Homo sapiens: one gene and its partners. The protein of the gene in region 2 interacts with the protein of the main gene of each other region in a pairwise test. Each region holds a gene or a part of one and is shown on either strand. Other genes may lie near its edges. The genes, in order: PPT1, ZNF829 and YJU2.

Region 1 (7,108 bases), on a different chromosome or scaffold from region 2:
GCAAATGAATTTCAACCTCCCTAAAGGGAACTGAATCTCAAAGGCCCTGCCTCCCAAAAAAAACAGAACTTCTCTTTCCTAGTGTCTGCCCAGGACAGTTTGGGTAAACAGTCACTGCTGATTTGTTTATGAAGACCTAAACAGGAAAAAGAACGCACATCTATGGGAGCCCGGTTTGGGTGCTTACCCGCTCCTGATTTATATCTGCCAAGAAGATGCTGTGGTTGCGATACACATCCTCCTTTATGGGGTCATGCCAGTATTCGGCTTGCACGAGGCTGTAGGAAAAAAAAAGAATGAGGTGATCAAGCTACAGGTCAGTCAGTACGCCCAGGGCATGCTCAGTGCAAAGGCCACCAAGAGACTTTAAAAGGACAAAAGGCCAGCCAGGCACAGTGGCTCACACCTGTAATCCCAGCACTTTGGGAGGCTGAGGCAGGTGGATCACGAGGTCAGGAGTTCAAGACCAGCCTAGCCAAGATGGTGAAACCCCGTCTCTACTAAAACTACAAAAATTAGCCAGGCGCGGCGGCAGGCGCCTGTAATCCTAGCTACTTGGGAGGCTGAGGCAGGAGAACTGCTAGAACCCCGGCGGCAGAGGTTGCAGTGAGCTGAGATCGCAGCACTGCACTTCAGCCTGTGCGACAGAGTGAGACTCTGTCTCAAAAAACAAGGACAAAAGGCCAAAGCCCTCAAGTCCCAGGCCTTACCCTTTAATACAGAAGACAAGACTTGCACCTAGGAAACAGTCTGTCAACAAGACACCTTGTTGAGACAGACTGTTCAGCATAGTACAGAAATTATAAAAGATTCAGGCAAAGGACTCATCAATATTTGCTTCTCCTGTGACACTGGGGTTTATCATACTTATCATGCTGATATGGTTTGGCTGTGTCCTCACCCAAATCTCATCTTGAATTGTAACTCCCACAATTCCCATATGTCATGGGAGGTGACTGAATTACAGGGGTGGGTCTTTCCTGTGCTGTTCTCGTGACAGTGAATAAGTCTCATGAGATCTGATGGTTTCAAAGAGGGGAGTTGGGCCAGATTCTGTGGCTCATGCTTATAATCCCAGCACTTTGGGAGGCCAAGGCGGGCAGATCGCCTGAGGTCAGGAGTTCGAAACCAACCTGGCCAACATGAGGAAACCCCGTCTCTACTAAAAATACAAAAATTAGCCAGGCACGGTGGCATGTGCCTGTAATCCCAGCTACTTGGGAGGCAGAGGGAGGGAGAATCGCTTGAACCTGGGAAGCTGAGGTTGCAGTGAGCCAAGATCACGCCATTGCACTCCAGCCTGGGAGACAGAGCGAGAATCCATCTCAAAAAATAAATAAATAAATAAATAAATAAATAGAAAATAAAATTAAGAGGGGAGTTTCCCTGCCCAAGCTCTCTTCTTTTGTCTACCGTCATGTGAGATGTGCCTTTCGCCTTCCGCCATGATTGTGAGGCTTCCCCAGCCACATGGAACTGTAAGTCCATTATAAACCTCTATTTGCCCAGTCTCGGGTATGTCTTTATCGGTAGCATGAAAACAGACTAATACAGTAAATAAGTACCAGTAGAGTGGGGTGCTGCTGAAAAGTTACCCAAAATGTGGAAGTGACTTTGGAACTGGGTAACAGGCAGAGGCTGGCACAGTTTGGAGGCCTCAGAAGAAGACAGGAAAATGTGGGAAAGCTTGGAACTTTCTAGAGACTTGTTGAATGGCTTTGACCAAAAGCCTGATAGTGATATAGACAATAAGGTCCAGGCTGAGGTAGTCTCAGATGGAGATGAGGAACTTGCTGGGAACTGGAGCAAAGGGGACTCTTTATACTTTCTTTCCAATCTCTCTCCACTTCCTCTTCCCTTCCAGCCCCCACCTCCTCAAAATGGGCACGGTTACCCCAAGGCCTCACATGGGGAAATTCGAACAAACTCTATCCCAGGTTGGCAGGGAGAGAAATCAAAATTTCTACAACATACGCTCCGTAGCCAGAGTGGAAGAGCTGCCCAGAGGCAGTGGTCCTGAAAACGCCACTCGGTGGAGCAGGCTGGCGCTAAAGCCCAACAGAGCCAGCTACGTCAGAGATGGAGCTCTCCCTCCCAGGAGCAGATGAGACTGAAGTTAAAGGAAGCAACAGTCAGAGTGACATTCTAGAATGTGTTTATACATGTATTTGAAACCTTTTAAAGGTTTAGAACTCTGAACATTTATAGAATGCAAAAAAAAAAAAGTTCCTGAGGAAAATTAGAAGTGTTATTTCAGTGAACACACAAATAATAAGGAAGCAAAACAGTCTTATTGCTGCTATGGAGAAAATCTGAGTGGTCTAGATAGAAGACCAAACCAGCCACAACATTCCCTTAAGCCAAAGCCTAATCCAGAGCAACGTCCTAACTCTCTTCAATTCAATGAAGGCTGAGAGAGGTGAGGAAGCTGCAGAAAAAAAGTGTGAAGCTAGCAGAGGTTGGTTTGTAAGGTTCAAGGAAAGAAACCATCTCCATAACACAGGAGTGCAAGATGGGGCAGCAAGTGCTGATGTAGAAGCTGCAGTAAGTTATCCAGGAGATCTAGCTAAGATACTTAATGAAGGTGGCGACCATAAACAACAAATTTTCAGTGTAGGTGAAACAGTCTTAAATTGGAAGAAGATGCCATCTAGGACTTTCACAGCTATAGAGGAGAAGTCAATGCCTGGCTTCAAAACTTCAAAGGACAGGCTGACTCTCTTGTGAGTGCCTCATGGAGCTGATGACTTGAAGCTGAAGCCAATGCTGGGTTACCATTTTTTAAATCCTAGGGCCCTTAAGAACTACGCTAAATTACTCTGCCTGTGCTCTACAAATGGAACACAAAGCCTGGATGACAGCAGATCTGTTTACAGTGTGGTTTGCTGACTATTTTAAGCCCACTGTTGAGACCTATTGCTCAGAAAAAAAGATTCCTTTCAAAACATTACCACGCAGCTGGGCATGGTGGCTCATACCTACAATGCCAGCACTTTGGGAGGCCAAGGTAGGAGGACCATTTGAGGCCAGGAGTTCAAGACTAGCTTGGGCAACATAGCAAGACCCCACCTCTAGAAAAGAAAATTCTTTTTAAAAGTAGCCGAGCATGGCGGTGCATGCCTGTAGTCCTAGCTACTCAGGAGGCTGAAGTGGGAGGATGGCTTGAGTCCAGGAGGTGAAGGCTGCAGTGAGCTGTGATCACACCACTGCACTCTAGTCTGGGCAAGAGAGCACAACCCTGTCTCAAAAACTATTTTTTTTAATTAAAAAAAGTTTAAAAACAAACTCAAAAAACAAACAAATATTACAGCTCATTAAAAAGCACCTGGTCACCCAAGCGCTCTGATGGAGATGTACAAAGAGATTAATGTTGTCTTCATGCCTGCCACAGCACATCCATTCTACAGCCCATGGATCAAGTAGTAATTTCAATTTTCAAGTCTTATTATTTAAGAAATACATTTACAAGGTTGTAGCTGCATAGACAGTGATCCCTTTGATGCATCTGGGCAAAGTAAACGGAAAACCTGATGGAAAGGATTTATCATTCTAGATGCCATTAAGAACATTAACGGGCTGGGTACCATGCACTTTGGGAGGGTGAGGAGGGAAAATCAGTGGAGCCCAGGAGTGTGAGACTAGCCTGGGCAACATAAATGAGATCCTATCTCTACAAAAAAATTAAAAAATTAGTGGGGTGTAGTGGCTCACACCTGTAGTCCCAGCTGCTCAGGACGCTGAGGTGGGAGGATTGCTTGAGCCTGGGAGGTTGAGGCTATGTTGCAGTAAGCTGTAATGGCACCACTGCACTCCAACTTGGGTGACAGAGTGAGACTCTGTCTCAAAAACAAACAAACAAAAATTCATGATTCACGGGAAGAGGTCAAAATATCAGTATTATCAGGAATTTAAAAGAAGTTGATTCCAACCCTCATGAATGGCTGAGGGATTCAAGACTTCAATGAAGGAAGTAACTGCAGATGTGGAAATAGCAGGAGAACTAGAATTAGAAGTGGAACCTGACGATGTGACTGAATTGTTGCAATCTCAAAAAACAGATAAGGAATTGCTTCTTACGGATGAGCAAAACAGTGGCTTCTTGAGATGGAATCTACTCCTGGTGAAGATGCTGTGAACACTGATGAAACGACAACAAAGGATTTAGAATAAATATTACATAAGCTTACATAAAAGCAGCGGCAGGGTTTGAGGATTGACTCCAGTTCTGAAAGATGTTCTATTGTGGCCAAAATGCTACCAAATAGCATCGCATGCTACAAAGAAATCTTTCATGAAAGGAAGAGTCAACTGATACAAAGTTCATCATTGTCTCACTTTAAGAAATTAGCACAGCCACCCCAATGTGGGCAGCAGGCCACCCAGGTGCCGAGGCAAGAGACCGAGGGCATGAGCTGTTCCGGTATAATAAAATATATAAAACAACAAGAGTTATCCTAGACCTAGATCATAAACATGATTATATATGAATACCATTCATCATTAGTTTGTAGCAATTATTCTTTATTCCAATATTATAATAATCCTTGCCCTACAATCATAACCTAGGAAAAGCCAGGCCATACAGAGATAGGAGCTGAAGGGACATGCTCAGAAGTGACCAGAAGACAATAGTGTGAGCCCTCTGTCATGCCCGGACAGGGCCACTAGAGGGCTCCTTGGTCTAGCGGTAATGCCAGCGTCTGGGAAGATGTCCGTTGCCAAGCGGACCGTGGTCTAGTGGTAGCGTCAGTGCCAAGGAAAAACACCCACTACTTAGCAGACTGGGAAAGGGAGTCTCCCTTTCCCCGGGGGAGTTTAGAGAAGCCTCTACTCCTCCACCTCTTGTGGAGGGCGTGACATCAGTCAGGCCCGCCTGCAGTTATCCGGAGGCCCAACCATCTCCCTGTGATGCTGTGCTTCAGTGGTCATGTTCCTAGCCTGCTTTCATGTTCCATCCTGTACACCTGGCTCTGCCTTTTAGATAGCAGTAGCAAAATTAGTGAAAGTACTAAAAGTCTCTGATATGCAGAAATAATGGCCTAAGCTGTCTTTCTCTCTCTCTCTCCCCACCTCGGCTGCCAAACAGGGAAGGGCCCCCTGTCCAGTGGACACGTGACCCATGTGACTTTACCTATCATGGGAGATGGCTCACACTCCTTACCCTGCCCCCCTTGTCTTGTATCCAATAAATATCAGCGCAGCCTGGCATTCGGGGCCGCTACCAGTCTCCACGTCTTGGTGGTAGTGGTCCCCCGGGCCCAGCTGTCTTTTATCTCTTTGTCTTGTGTCTTTATTTCTACAATCTCTCATCTCCGCACACAGGGAGAAAAACCCACCGACCCTGTGGGGCTGGACCCTACATCCCAACCTTCAGCAACCACCACCCTGATCAGTCAGCAGCCATCAACACCGAGGCAAGACCCTCCACCAGCAAAAAGATGACTTGCTGAAGACTCAAATGATTAGCATTTTTTAGCAATAAAGTATTTTCTAATTAAGGCATGTACTTTTTTTAGGCATGATGCTACTGCACACTTAATAGACTTCAGTATAGTGTAAACATAGCTTTTATATGCGCTGGGAAACCAACAACTTTGTGTGACTTGCTGTATTAACAATATTTGCTTTATTGTGGTGGTCTAGAACCAAATCCTCAGTTTCTCTGAGGTATGCCTGTAGTTCGTTACATTACTCTCTAACTTTTTTGAATGGCTGAAAGTCTCTGAGAGAGCCTGAGTAGATGCCTTAATATTTCCAGAAAACCAAGTTGCAAGTTCATCGGCTGAGGGCAAAGACATGGGAAAACTGGACAATTGAGGAAAAGCACTCTGAGATCCACTGAGGGTGGGGTGCAAACTGGGAGCGGGGCCCAGAGCAGACCTGGGGAAGGCAAGTTGCTATGAAAATTAAACAGGATATGTAAAGCTCTAGCTTCCTCTGAGCTGGTACGGGGGAAGACGGAGGCCAAGGCCAGGGCAACACTGAAGCATTCATTGTGGCAGGGAGTGTAGAGGTAGGAGGGTAGAGCGTGGGGCAGGGGATGGCAGGGAGCAAACCGGAGGAAGGAGAAGGCTAGGAAGGGCTGACAGCATCTGCAAAGGCAAAAGGGAACTAGAGGGTAGTTTTACATCCAGGAAGGAGAGAGAGAACTATTATACCATTCCTCGTTGCCCTCACCATGCCAAGCCGGGGGCTTCCCCACCAGTTACTGTGCGTATTAGGATATCACGTTTGCTTTGCTAAGGTTAAGTTATCTGAAGAATGTGGAAGACATCTTTTGGGGTCTCTGCCTCTCTTGCACTCTTCCTGCCCGGCCTACTGGTTTACAGGGAGGTGGGGTATGGTTAGTAAGCACGGTCCCACTTCTCTGGCCACAGCTAATGAGAGCAGAGGGGGAGACCTGACCTGAGCTGGGGCATGGTCCCTTCCTGAAGAATCTGAATCGGGACAAAGAGAGTCTAGCCTCAGACTGAGACAATCTCCTAACAGAAAATTAAACATTTGGAAGCCGTGCGAGGCCACCTTCCATCATGTGGGTGGCAGGGGAAGCTGGTCTGCATGGAGAGAAAGAAGCAGCGACACAGAGAGAGAAGCAACAATGGCACTGGAGAGAGAATACCCTGGCTCCTCATGGCTCCCAATTCTTGATTCTAGGCCCTATGAGGCTTTAGGCACCAACAGAGTATTACTTTCTTTTAAAATTTACTTTGGCTTGATATGGGTTTCTTCTTGCAACCAGAATTAATCCTCCCTAATACCAGGGGCAACCTGGGACAGTATCACAAAGACAAAATGATTTCTCTTTATTACTTTAAGCCTTCACCATCTGCTCTGCTAAAACAGTTCTCACACTCATTCATCTGCTTGCTTGCTTTCAAAAACATGTTGCCATTTTTTATGATCTCTTACCTCCTCTCTCCCTGTTCTCTCTGCCCTTGTGGGTTTATCACTTTTTATTCTTCTGCTACCACTTAATTAAAGTTTAAGGAGGAAGTGAAGATAAACACATCAATCTATAGCTTTTAATCAGTATTTTTTATTTTTATTTTTTGAGACAGAGTCTCACTCTGTCATCTAGGTTGGGGTGCAGTGGTGCGATCTCAGCTCA
Region 2 (7,108 bases):
TTTGATTAAAGGTCTTTCCACATATCTTACATTCCCATGGTTTCTCTTCACTCATAGTTTTTTGAGGTGGAATAAGAAATGTGGGCTGAATAAAAGTAGACATGTCTTCACGGGTAATTATTACTTGACTGAAATGTCTCTTCTTTAGAGATAATATTTTGGTCTCACACATTGATTCCAGATCTGAAAGAAAATACAAAGGCAAATAAATTTTCCTATTCTGGGCAAGTTAAAACTTCTAAAAAAGAAATGGGAGAATTAAACTGAAAAGAATATCTGAGAAATTACACAGTTTTCAAAGGTGGAGAGGCAATCTGTAAAACTGACAAGAAAAGCACAGACATTAGGAGAGGTAATAAAAGAAGCTGAGGATGTGGATTCAGAAAGTAGATGACCTCTATGATCCTCAAATTTTGGTCTGAACCAGAGTCACCTTAAGCCTTGGTGAATACACAGTGTTCAGCACCATCCTCCATATTATAGAGAGATTCTAATTAAAAAAAAAAAATTTTTTTTGCCCCCACCCCAGATCCCCCACAGGCGCTGCCTGAGACCCAGCTCTGTGTCTCCTCGTCGTACAGCTTGTGGAGCTCCGACTGCAAGGCCATCAGCATGCCCAGGCAGGGGTTAAGCTGGAGGGCCATGGAGGAGGACAGGCCAGCAGGATGCCGCTTCTGCTCCAGGGCATGCACCATGCGTGAGATATTCTAATTATATACACGTTCATAAACATATGCTCACATGCACAGAGTATGATACTGTATGTTTTGCAATTCGTAGATAACTGTCAGACCTACATGAAAGGACTGTTAAGAATAACAAATGTGTTGAAAGGTTTAAATGTCGGGGGCGGGTGGAGTTCAGTGACTGTGCAATGGTATACTGGCAAATCACCAGCCTCCGACAAATCTAATATGCTGAACACAACTGGTGGGAAGAGTAGACAGGTACATCTCTTCTGTGCATACAGCATGATATGGGCTAGGAACTCACTGAAAATAATTTGCTCTGGAATTCTGTGATGTTGACCTTGGGAGAAAGAAATGAATAATTCAAGTCATAGCAGTGATTGAGAAGGAAGGTGGCTCAAGTTTGAGACACAAGAGAGTTAAGATAGGATGAAATGTACTCTATGAGAAGAATGGAACTCCATGTCAACATATAAACAGTGAGCCCCAGTTCTATGCTTTAAGGCAACCTCTGAGCCCTCTTTTCCTTGTTTATTAAAATGGGACTGACACTTAACTTATGATTGCTAAAAAGATGAGGAATAACGTATATAAATAATCTGATATAAAGTAAGCACTCAGTATTGGTAGCTATTATTATGAAAAAATGTCATAGCAAAAACAGATATTGGGCAAATAAAATGGCTTGAAGACATCAAAATAAAGCCAGCTAGACTATCTTAAGTATTCCCTCCACACAATCATTGGCCAAACTTAGTCTGGGTGAGTCCCTAAAAATCTCTTAAAGTTGTCCTCATTTAATTACTGAATCCCCTCTTTCCTAGACCACTACAGGAATCTCCTAATGGTTTCCCCAGTATGTTCTAGCACCCTCTAATCCATTCAGCACCTGGTGTGATATTTGGTCTCACTTTGCCCTCCTGAAAATCTAAACTCCTTGGTAATTACCAAGAAGACTCCAATAATGAGGCTCTTGCCTACCTCTACAACCTTGTGTTATACTCCACTTCCACTTGCTCAAGAAGCCCCAGTCCTTCAAGCACCTCAAGTTCTCCCTGCCCCTCAGGGCCTTCCCACATGGATCTCCCCTTTACCTGGCATACCCCTCATCCTATCACCATTGTTGGCCCTGCTAACAATGAGAAAAGCCTCATCACAGCTTCCACTAACAACCAAGCCCTAAGCCACTGAGGAACTCACAGACACTGCTGACACTGATTGCAGCCAGAGAAATCATATGGAGATTATACCACTGCATCCACCTATAACAAAGCCAAAGCAACCTACCCAACCAACACTATAAATACATCTACAGGAAAAAGGTTTTCCTTATGAAAACAAATCCATAAAATTGGAAAAAATGACCATAACAAGAAATACACAGATATCAATGTAAGGATAAAAGAAACACGAAAAAGCATGGAACCATGACATCTCCAAAGTAATACAATAATGCTCCAGCAACAGATTCCAACAAACAAGAAATCTATCAAGTGCCTGAAAAAGAATTCAAAATAATGATATTAAAGAAGCTCAGTGGGAAACAATAGAACATGGATAAAAACCAAAAGAATCAGAAAAAACAATTCATGATCTGAATGAGAAATTCAGCAGATAGATATCATGAAAAAGAACCAAACAGAAGTCCTGAAACTGACAAATTTCAATGAATGAAATAAAAAACACAATTGAGAGCTTCAACAATAGACTAGATCAAGCAGAAGAAAGAATTTCTGAACTTGAGGACAGGGTTTTTTAAAAGAATCCAGGAAGAAAAAGTAAAAAATAATAATTTTTAAAACTGAAAAAAGCTTAGATGACATATGGGACATCATAAAGCAACCAAATATTCAAATTTTGGGTATTCTAGGAGAAGAGATGGGCAAAGGCATAAAAACCTATTTAACAAAATAACTGAAAACTTTCCAAGTCTTGTAAGCAATATAGACATCCTGATACAGAAGGCTCAATGATGCCCAAATAGATTCAATCCAAAAAGGTTTTCCAAGGCCCATTACAGTCAAACTGTCAAAAGTCAAAGACAGAGAATTCTAAAAAAAGCAAGAGAAAGGCATCAAGTCACATATAAGGGAACCCTCAGGCGTCAAGTCACATACAAGGGAACCCTCATCAGAACTAGTAGCAGATACCTTGGCAGAAACCTTCCATGCCAGGAAAGAATGGGATGATATATTCAAAGTGCTAAAAAAACACTGTCAGCCAAGAATACTGTACCTAGCAAAGCCATCCTTCAAAAATGAAGGAGAAAGTTTTTCCCAGAGAAAATGTATCACAACTAGGGTGGCCCGATCAAAAATGGCAAAGGGTGTCCTACATCTGGAAGTAAAAGACATATCTACCATCATTAAACAAATGAAAATAAGAAGCTCACTGGTAGAGCAGATACACAAATGGAAAGAGAAAGGACTCAGATGTAACCATTACATAAAACCACCAAACCAAATGATAAGAGGAAAGAAAAAGGATATAAAACAACCATAAAAAATTAACAGATTAGGAATAAATCCTCACCTATTAATAATAACCTTGAATGTAAACAGTCAAATTCCCCACTTAAAAGATACAGTCTGGTTGAATGGATAAAATAAATATGACTCACCTATATACTGGCTGTGAGAAACTCACTTTATATATAAAATCATAGACTGAAAGTGAAGAGATGAAAAAAAAATACTGCACACAAACAAACCAAAAGCAAGTGAGAGTAGCCATACTTAAATAAAACAGACATTAAGTAAAAAACTGCAAAAGAAGCAAAGAAGGTCATTATATAATGATAAATGGGTCAATTCAGCCAGAGGATATAAAGTTCTAAATTTATAGGCACTCAACACTGCAGCACCCAGATATATAAGCAAATATTATTAGATCTAAAAAGAGAGATAGGGCTGGGCATGGTGGCTCATGCCTGTAATCCCAACACTTTGGGAGGCCAAGGCGGGAGGATCACTTGAGGTCAGGAGTTCGAGACCAGCCTTCCCAACATGACGAAACCCTGTCTCTACTAAAAATACAAAAATTAGCTGGGTGTGGCCAGGCGCGGTGGCTCATGCCTGTAATCCCAGCACTTTGGGAGGCTGAGGCAGGCAGATCACGAGGTCAGGAGATTGAGACCATCCTGGCTAACATGGTGAAACCTCGTCTCTACTAAAAATACAAAAAATTAGCCAGGCATGGTGGCAGGCACCTGTAGTCCCACCTACTCGGGAGGCTGAGGCAGGAGAATGGTGTGAACCTGGGAGACGGAGCCTGAAGTGAGCCGGGTTCGCACCACTGCACTCCAGCTTGGGTGACAGAGCAAGACTGTCAAAAAAAAAAAAAGAAAGAAAAAAAAATTAGCTGGGCGTGGTGGCATGCACCTGTAATCCGAGCTACTCAGGAGGCTGAGGCAGGAGAATTGCTTGAACCTGGGAGGCAGAGGTTGCAGTGAGCCAATATTGTGCCACTGCACTCCAGCCTGGGCGACGGAACTAGACTCTGTCTCAAAAAAACAACAACAAAAAAAGGTAGACTCCCATAAAATAATAGTACGGGATTTGAACATCCCACTCTCAGCATTAGACAGTTCATCTAGATAGAAAATCAACAGCTTTGGATTTAAACTGGATATTAGACCAAATGGACCTACCAGACACTAACTGAACATTTTATCCAACAGCTGCAGAATACACATTGTTCCTATCAGCACATGGAACATCCTCCAGGAAGAGACCATACGTTAGGCCATAAGACAAGTTATAACTAATTTTTAAAAATTGAAATCATATCAAGTATCTTCTCAGACTACACTAGAATAAAACTAGAAATCAATAACAAAAACTTTGTAAACCACACAAATAAATGGAAATTTAAACAATGTGCTTGCTCATGAATGCCCATTGGGTCAATTAAGAAATTAAAGATCATCAAAGACTACTACAGGCAACTATATGCTAACAAATCAGATAACCTAGAGGAAACAGAAAAATTCCTGGATACATGAAAACCTACCAAGACTGAACCAGGAAGAAACAGAGCAGAAGAACCTGAGCAGACCAATAACGAGTAATGAGATTGAAGCAATAGTAAAATGTCTCCCAACAAAAAAAGCCCAAGACTAAAGGGCTTTACTGCTGAATCCTACCAAAATTACAAATAACTAACCTCAGTTTTTCTCAAACTATTCCAAAAAATGGAAGAGAAGTTAATTCTTCCTAATCCATTCTACAAGGCCAGCATTACCCTGATACCAAAACCAGAGAAGGACACAACAACAACAACAAAAAGAGGTGATATCCCTCATGAACATAGACACAAAACCCCTCAATGAAATACTAGCAAATGAAATCCAATAATACAACAACAAGATAATATACAACGATTAAGTGAGATTTTTCCTGAAAAGTGCAAGGATGGCTCAACATAAGCAAATCAATAAACATGATGTATCAGATCAACAGGATGAGGGATAAAAACCATATGATCAGCTCAATAGATGCAGAGAAACATCTGATAAACTTCAACGTCTCTTCATTATAAAAACCTCTCAACGATTAGGCATTAAAAAACATAACATAATAAAGACCATATATGACAAACGTACAGCTAACACCATACTGAATGGGGAAAAGCCGAAAGCTTTTCCTCTAAGAACTGGAACAAGATAAAGAAGCCCACATTCACCACTATTATTCAATATAGTACTGGAAGTCCTATCCAGAGCAATCAGGCAAGAGAAAGAAATAAAAGGCATCCAGATTGGATAATAGAAAGTCACACTGTCCCTTTACAGATGACATGATCTTACATATATTTAAAAACCTAAAGATGCCACCAGAAATTCTTGGAACTGATCAATGAAATCAGTAAAGTTGCAAGATACAAAATCAATATACAAAAATAAGTAGTACGCTGGGCACGGTGGCTCACGCCTATAATCCCAGCAGTTTGGAAGGCCGAGGTGGGTGGATCACTTGAGGTCACGAGTTTGAGACCAGCCTGGCCAACATGGTGAAACCTTGTCTTGACTAAAAATACAAAAATTGGCCAGGTGTGGTGGCAGGCACCTGTGGTCCCACCTACGTGGGAGGCTGAGGCAGAACTGCTTGAACCCAGGAGGTGGAAGCTGCAGAGAGCTGAGATCATGCCATTGCACTCCTCCAGCCTGGGAGACAGAGCAAAACTCTGTCTCAAAAAGGGAAAAAAAAAGGATTTCTATACATCCACAATAATGAATTAGCTGAAAAAGAAATCAAGAAAACAATCCCATTTATTAATATAATAGCTACAAAAAACAACCTAGAAATAAATTTAACCATGAAGTGAAAGACCTCTGTAAGGAAAACTACAAAACACAGACAAAAGAAATTGAAGACAACAAACAAATAAAAAGATATTTGCATGCTTATGCACTGGAAGAACTATTGTTAAAATGAACATACTTCCCAAAGCAATCTACAGATTCAATGCAATCTACAGATTCAATGCAATCCCGACTGAAATGCCAGTCAGTTTTTACATGAACAGGAAAAAAAATCCTAAAATTTGTAGGAAACCATAAAAAATGCCAAATAGCCAATGCAATCTGTAGCGAAAGAACAAAAGTGGAAGAATCAAACTTCAAAATATACTACAAAGCTGTCGTAACCAAAACAGCATGGTACTGTCATAAAAATAGACCCAAAGACCAATGGAACAGAAGAGAGAACCCACAAATAAATCCATGTATTTATAGTCAACTGATGGTTGACAAAGGTGCCAAGAACAGACATAGGGAAAAGGACACGCTGTTCAATAAATGGTGCTGGGAAAACTGGTTATCCATATAGTGAAGAATGAAACTAGACTGTATCTCTCACCATATACAAAAATAAACTCAAAATGAATTAAATACTTAACTATAAGACCCCAAATTATAAAACTACTGCAGGAAAACATAGGGGAAACACTTCAGAAGAATAGGCAAATATATTTTAGATAAGACCTCAAAGATATTTTCAATAAGGGGCAACAACAAAAAAATAGACAAATTGGACTATATTGAACTAAAATGCTTCTGCACAGCAAAGGAAACAATCAGCAGAGTGAAGAGACCTGTAGAATGGGAGAAAATATTTGCAAACTCTTCACCTGAGAAGGGACTAATATCCAGAATTAACAAGGAAGCAAAAAAACTTAATAGCAGTGCCATAGCGGCTCATAACTGTAATCCCAGCACATTGGGAGGCCAAGTCAGGAGGATCACTTGAGGCCAGGAGTTCAAGACCAGCCTGGGGAACATAGGGAGACCCCCCCCGATCTCTATAAACAGTTTTAAAATTAGCTAGGTATAGTGGCATGCACCTGCAGTCTTAGCTACTTAGGAGGCTGAGGTGGTAGAATCACTTGAGCCTGGGAGTTCAAGGATGCGGTGAGCTGTG
Region 3 (7,108 bases), about 33 Mb from region 2:
GGGTAAATACAACAAGGTCACAGCACTGGGAAGCAGCCAGGCAGGATTCACTCCCAACCTGCCTGGCTCCAAAGCCACTTCTCAGGGACCCGTGGCCACCAGACTCGCCTCCCTCAGCCTCAGTTTCCGTTTCTGTAAAATGGGGGTTGTGAGGATTAAATGAGATGGCATATGGAAACCTCTTAGCCCAGGGCCCGGTGTACAGTAGGTGCTCAGGTTGTCTTTTACAATTTTTCCTTAATATTATTATTTTTGAGATAGAGTCTCGCTCTGTCACCCAAGCTGGAATGCATTGGCACGATCTGAGCTCAGTCAACCTCTGCCTCCTGGGTTCAAGTGATTCTCCTGCCTCAGCCTCCCAAGTAGCTGGGATTACAGGTGTGTGCCACCACGCCTGGATAATTTTTGTATTTTTATTATTTATTTATTTTTTTGAGATGGAGTCTCACTCTGTCACCCAGGTTGGAGTCCAGTGGTGCAATCTTGGTTCACTGCAACCTCTGCCTCCCGGGTTCAAGCAATTCTCCTGCCTCAGCCTCCCAAGTAGCTGGGATTACAGGCACATGCCACTACGCCCAGCTACTTTTTGTATTTTTAGTAGAGATGGGGTTTCGTCATGTTGGCCAGGCTGGTCTTGAACTCCTGACCTCAAGTGATCTGTCTGCCTCGGCCTCCCAAAGTGCTGGGATTACAGGCGTGACCCATAACACCCAGCCTGTATTTTTAGTAGAGACAGGGTTTCACCATGTTGGCCAGGCTGGTCTCGAACTCCTGATCTCAGGTGATCCGCCCGCTCCGGCCTCCCAAAATGCTGGGATTACAGACGTGAGCCACTGTGCCTGGCCAAATTTTTCCTTATTATTCTTACTGAAAGATGGCACCAGGCCAGAAATCCAGGCCACCTGGGTCCAGAGCCAGCCTCTTTCCACCCCACCCTGCCCCAGGGCTCAGATCCCGGCTCCACCACTGCTCAGCCCCATGTGGTCACTTTCCCTCCCCAGACCTGAGTGTTCTCACCTGTGAAATGGACACAGCGCTGGGCATGGGCAGGGGGTTCCCTGAGCAGGATGGAAACGTGGGGGTAGGGGTTCCTCCCGTGGCCCGCAGTGGCCCCCGAGGCCAGACAGGGTTTGCCCCGTGGTGCGATCCCCATGCACTCAGCCCCGCCGCCCCGCGCCCGCCAGGTGCTGGAGAACCGGACCAAGGACTCCAAGCTGGAGATGGAGGTGCTGGAGAACCTCCAGGAGCTGAAAGACCTGAACCAGCGGCAGGCGCACGTGGACTTCGAGGCTATGCTGAGGCAGCACCGCCTGTCGGAGGAGGAGCGGCGGAGGCAGCAGCAGGAGGAGGACGAGCAGGAGACCGCGTGAGTCAGGGCCGGCCCAACCCAGCCCCACCTCGCAGCCTCTGCCCCGGCAGGCGCTGCCTCTGCCCCAGACCCTTTCCCCGCTCTCTGGAGTGTCGCCTTTGCAAGGACCCCTTTCCCACCGCCCATCTCACTTTCTCCCTTGTGGCGTCTCTCGAGGGGGTCCCAGGCCACTGCCGGGCACGGTGACTTAGCACGTGGTCGCCCGCATGGCTGCGGTTTGTCACAGCGAGAGGACACAGCAGATTCAGCAAAGGGGAAAGGCATGTGTGGTGTGTCGGGGGCCAGGCCTTCCAGATCCTCTCCTGGTGGAGCTTCGCAGGACGCGCCTCATCCCCTAGCACCAGCCTGGAGGACTCGAGAAAGGCGCCATCACTAGGGAAGCTCCTAGAGACCCAGCGTGGGGTTCCTATGGGGCCTGGTCCCACAGCCCCCGCTGCCTCACCCATGCCGGGATTCCAGACTCCAGAGGAAAGCAGGGGTCACGCATAAACCATGGTGTTTGCAGGAACAGCTGAAGCCCCAGAGCCCGTCCCATCCATGAGGGTGGGAGGCCCCCAGCACAGGCTCCCGGACACCCACCAAGGGACGCCCTCACCAGCCGCCTTCTGAGGACACAGCCTCAGGCCTCCTGGGTGAACACTTTTCTTTTTTTTTTTTTTTTTTTTTTTTTTTTTGAGACGGAGTCTCCCTCTGCTGCCCAGGCTGGAGGGCAGTGGCGCCATCTCGCTCACTGCAAGCTCCGCCTCCCGGGTTCATGCCATTCTGCCTCAGCCTCCCGAGTAGCTGGGATTAGAGGCATCCGCCACCAAGCCCGGCTAATTTTTTGTAATTTTTAGTAGAGATGGGGTTTCACCGTGTTAGCCAGGATGGTCTCGATCTCCTGACCTCGTGATCCGCCCGCCTCGGCCTCCCAAAGTGCTGGGATTGCAGGCGTGAGCCACCGCGCCCGGACGACGCTTTTCTTTTTCTTTGAGACGGGGTTTTGCTCTGCCGCCCAGGCTGGAGTGCAGTAGTGCAGTCATAGCTCACTGTAGCCTCCATCTCCCGGGCTCAAGCGTTCCTCCTGCCTCAGCCTTCTGGGTAGCTGGGACCACAGGGACACATCACCATGCCCAGCTAATTGTTTTTATTTCTGTAGAGACAGGACCTCGCTATGTTGGACAGGCTGGTTTTGAACTCCTGGCCTCAAGCGATCCTCCCACCTTAGTCTCCTGAAGTGCTGGATGACACGTGTGAGCCCCTGTGGTTGGCTGGTGAATGCCTTTGACGCCGACCACCTCTGAGCCCGCGTGCTGATCCCCTCCTTTCCTGGTGCCTCATCTCCCCTCCCTCCTTTAGAATCTGAGCTGTAAGGACAGGGACGTGGTGGCCTCTCCTGTGTCCCCAGGGCTTCCAGCAGGTAGGTTCTGGTAGGTTCCACGTCAGTGCCTGATGGGTGTGCAGAGCAGCGATACCGTGCAGAACAGTGTTGGGAGCCTGCGTTCATCCTGCACCTTCCGGGTGCCGGGCGTGGCTGTAACCTCACTACCCACACAGCCCTGGGGGTCAGTGTGATCTTCATCATGGAGGGGACTGAGGTCCAGGGAGGTCCAGGCATGAGCCCCACCAAGGTTACCCTCCAGGCTCCATCCAGACAGGCTGGTTCCGGCATCCAGGCACTTAACCACACCACTGCCCTCGGTGGACACGGAAAAGTTAATGTAAAAAAGTAGAAGGGGCCGGGCGCAGGGTCTCCTGCCTGCCATCCTGCACTGTGGGAGGCTGAGGCGGGCGGATCACCTGAGGTCAGCAGTTCGAGACCAGCCTGGCCAACATGGCGAAACCCCATCTGTACTAAAAATACAAAAACAAATTAGCTGGGCGTGGTGGCAGATGCCTGTAATTCCAGCTGCTCCAGAGGCTGAGACAGGAGAATTGCCTGAACCCGGGAGGCAGAGGTTATAGTGAGCCGAGATGGTGCCACTGAACTCCAGCCTGGGCGACAGAGCAAGATTCCTCCTAAAAAAAATGAAAATTAAAAAGTAGACTAGGTGCGGTCGGTGGCTCACGCCCGTAATCCCAGCACTTTGGGAGGCTGAAGTGGGCGTATCACCTGAGGTCAGGAGTTCGAGACCAGCCTGGCCAAGATGGTGAAACCCCGTCTCTACTAAAACTACAGAAATTAGCTGGACATGGTGGTATGTGCCTGTAGTCCTAGCTAACATTTTTAATTTTTTTAGAGACGGGGTCTCGCTATGTTGCCCAGGCTGGTCTCTAACCCCTGGCTCAAGCGATCCTCCCGTCTCAGCGTCCCAAAGAGCTGGGATGACAGGCATGAGCCACTGCATCTGGCCCCTTTAATCTGTTTTATGTTTAAATAGAGGAAGTGGTAACCACTGGGTTAAGGAAGTCCCAATGGGTGCTCTGCCCTCACGGAGCTCACTGTGTGGGGAGGGAGAGGGACAAGGAGACCAATACCCAGGACAACATCCATCTGGGTGAGAGAGAAGCCAGGATGCGTGAGCTTGAATTATGAGGATGAGCTTCTCAGAGGAAGAGCGTCTTGCATTGGGTATTGAAGGTCGAGTAGGAGTTCACCAAGCGAGTGCTTGGCAAAGGGGTCATCCCAGGTAAGGGGATGTAGGCCCCTGATTTTTAAAATCCTTTTTGCAGAGATGCGGTCTTGCTGTGTTGCCCAGGCTGGTCTCATGCTCCTGGCCTTAAGCATTTCTCCTGCCTTGGCCTCTAAAGGCACAGGGATTACAGACATCAGCCACCATGTCTGGCCCCAAGACATTTTTCTAAAAGACATTTTCTTTGAAGCTATATCCCCTGATTAGAGTTCTCACACTGTGGTTCTCACATAAACCACTCCCAGAATTAGAGACCGGCCTGGCCAAGATGGCGAAACCCCGCCTCTACTAAAAATACAAAAATTAGCTGGACACGGTGGTGCGTGCCTGTAGTCCTAGCTGCTCGGTAGGCTGAGGCTGGAGAATCGCTTGAACCCAGGAGGCGGAGGTTGCAGTGAGCCAAGATCACGCCACTGCACTCCAGCCTGGACAACAAAGACTCCATCTCAAAAAAGAAAAAAAAAATACAAAAATTAGCCGGGTGTGGTGGCAGGCACCTGTAATCCCAGGTACTTGGGAAGCTGAGGCAGGAGAATCGCTTCAACCTGGGAGGTGGGGGTTGCAGTGAGCCAAGATTGCGCCACTGCACTCCAGCCTGGGCAACAGAGCGAGACTCTGTCTCAAAAATAAAATGAAATAAAATTTAATAAGGCATAGGAACACGCCTGTGGACCCAGCTACTCAGGAAGCTGAGTGGGGAGGATCGCTTGAGCCCAGGAGGTTGAGGTTGCAGTGAGCTGTGATTGTGCCACTTCACCCTCCCTGAGTGACAGAGTGAGACCTTGTCTCTTAAAAAAAAAAAGTAATCTGTGCTCCCCCTACTCCCTCCCACCCCTGCTCACTGAGGGCAGGAAGAGGTCTCCAGGCACCCAGGCCCCTCGCCACCCCAGCAGGTACATCCCAGGCACTGTTCCCCAAACAGAGCACGTCCAAGTTCCCATCTTCCATCCCACAGGGCCCTGTTGGAGGAAGCCAGAAAGCGAAGACTGCTGGAGGACTCCGACTCAGAGGATGAGGCTGCTCCCTCGCCCCTGCAGCCAGCCCTTCGGCCCAACCCCACCGCCATCCTGGATGAGGTAAGTGGGGTGCCTGAGTCCTGGGGGCTCCCAGGTGAACTAGGGACAACTGAAGCCAGGGGTCAGCTTGACTTTTTCTTTTGTTTTTTGTTTTTGTTTTTTGAGACGGAGTCTCGCTCTGTCGCCTAGGCTGGAGTGCAGTGGCACGATCTTGGCTCACTGCAACCTCTGCCTCCCAGGTTCAAGCGATTCTCCTGCCTCAGCCTCCCGAGTAGCTGGGACTACAGGCACGCGCCACCAAGCCCAGCTAATTTTTTGTATTTTTAGTAGAGATGGGGTTTCACCATGTTGGGAAGGATGGTCTCAATCTCTTCACCTCGTGATCCGCCCGCCTAGGCCTCCCAAAGTGCTGGGATTACAGGCGTGAGCCACCATGCCCGACCAGAACTTGACTTTTTCTTAAAAGGCCAGTCTGCACCCTAACTCCTCCACCCTGTGGCTGTAGCCCAAAACACCCATGATCAGGTGTAAATAAGTGGGTGTTGCCTGGTGCCAATAAATCTTTATTTATAGGCGGGGTGCAGTGGCTCATGCCTGTAATCCCAGCATTTTGGGAGGCCAAGGCAGGAGGATCGCTTGAGGCCGGGAGTTTGAGACCAGCCTGGGCAACAAAGTGAGACCCCTTCTTTACAAAATTACAAAAATTAGTCATGGGTGGTGGTGCATGTCTGTGGTCCCAGCTGTTTGAGAGACTGAGGCAGGAGGACCGCTTGAGCCCAGAAGGTCAAGGCTGCAGTGAGCTGCATCAGTATGACCGAACTCCAGCCTGAGCAAGAGTGAGACCCTGTCTAAAATAAACAAATAAAAATTAAGGCTGAGTGCAGTGGCTCACGCTTGTAATCCCAGCTACTCAGAAGGCTGAGGCAGGAGAATCGCTTGAACCCGGGAGGCGGAGGTTGCAGCGAGCCGAGATCGTGCCACTGCACCCCAGCCTGGGTGACAGAATGAGACTCTGTCTCAAAAAAAAAAAAAAAAAAACTTAATTTACTAAAACTGGTGGCAGGCCTATGGGTCTGTAATTCGCCAACCCCTGTTTAAGCTGCCGAAAGAAGAGAATGTAAAGAAAGAACATAGAAATTTATTTCTCAGTCATAACAGCCCTGGGCTGACAGTCTAGGACTTCGGGCAGCTCTGCTCCTTGGAACCATTCAGGGACTCAGCCTCCTTCCTTCTGGAGCACGGCTTCCTGCGCTGTGGCCACAGCTGGCTCAGAGCACCTTCAGGGTCCGGCTGTGGGAAGGCAAAAAGTGTGTGGAGGACCACGCAGCCTCAGATGCGGCCCACCTCAGTTCTTCTCTCATGCCAGAGGCCACAGCATAGTCACAAGGCCCCATCTGGTGGCGAAGGAAACTGTGAGATGCATCCTCCAGCTGGTCCGTGCCTGGCTGTGCTGCCAACTAGAACGAAGGGAGGCCGGGCACCGTGGCTCAAAGTGCTGTAATCCCAGCACTTTGGGAGGCCGAGGCAGGCGGATCATCTGAGGTCAGGAGTTCGAGACCAGCCTGGCCAACATGGAGAAACCCTGTCTCTACTAAAAATACAAAAATTAGCTGGACATGGCGGTGCCTGCCTGTAATCCCAGTTACTCGGGAGGCTGAGGCAGGAGAATCACTTGAACCTGGGAGGCAGAGGTTGCAGTGAGCTGAGATTGTGCCATTGCCCTCCAGCCTGGGCAACAGAGTGAGACTCTATCTCAAAAAAAAAAAAAAAAAAAAGGAGGAAGGAGTTTTGGTGGATGACCAGCATTTTCCACCACAGCTGACTCATCCAAGGTGGCCTCAGCCACTCTGGTTTGTTCATTGAAGAAGGTGGTAAAAGTAGGGGCTCATAAACCAATAACACAGACACACAGAAACGATTGTTCTCGGCCGGGCGCGGTGGCTCACACCTGTAATCCCAGCACTTTGGGAGGCCAAGGCGGGTGGATCACGAGGTCAGGAGATCGAGATCATCCTATCTAACACGGTGAAACCCCATCTCTGCTAAAAATACAAAAAATTAGCCGGGCGTGGTGGCGGGCGCCTGTAGTCCCAGCTACTCAGGAGGCTGAG

Evidence for each region.
Region 1: the proteins of ZNF829 (region 2) and PPT1 interact in binary tests that used the Homo sapiens proteins (3 or more experiments, as listed by UniProt).
Region 3: the proteins of ZNF829 (region 2) and YJU2 interact in binary tests that used the Homo sapiens proteins (3 or more experiments, as listed by UniProt).

The regions. Positions count from the first base shown.
Region 1 is NC_000001.11:40,080,210-40,087,317, forward strand, and holds part of PPT1 (palmitoyl-protein thioesterase 1 isoform 1 precursor), read right to left. Parts: intron 279-7,108; coding exon 188-278; intron 1-187. UniProt on the Homo sapiens protein: Has thioesterase activity against fatty acid thioesters with 14 -18 carbons, including palmitoyl-CoA, S-palmitoyl-N-acetylcysteamine, and palmitoylated proteins. In contrast to PPT2, PPT1 can hydrolyze palmitoylated proteins and palmitoylcysteine.
Region 2 is NC_000019.10:36,892,289-36,899,396, forward strand, and holds part of ZNF829 (zinc finger protein 829), read right to left. Parts: intron 931-7,108; exon of another isoform or gene 530-930; intron 184-529; coding exon 1-183. UniProt on the Homo sapiens protein: May be involved in transcriptional regulation.
Region 3 is NC_000019.10:4,257,058-4,264,165, forward strand, and holds part of YJU2 (splicing factor YJU2), read left to right. Parts: intron 1-1,184; coding exon 1,185-1,366; intron 1,367-4,936; coding exon 4,937-5,057; intron 5,058-7,108.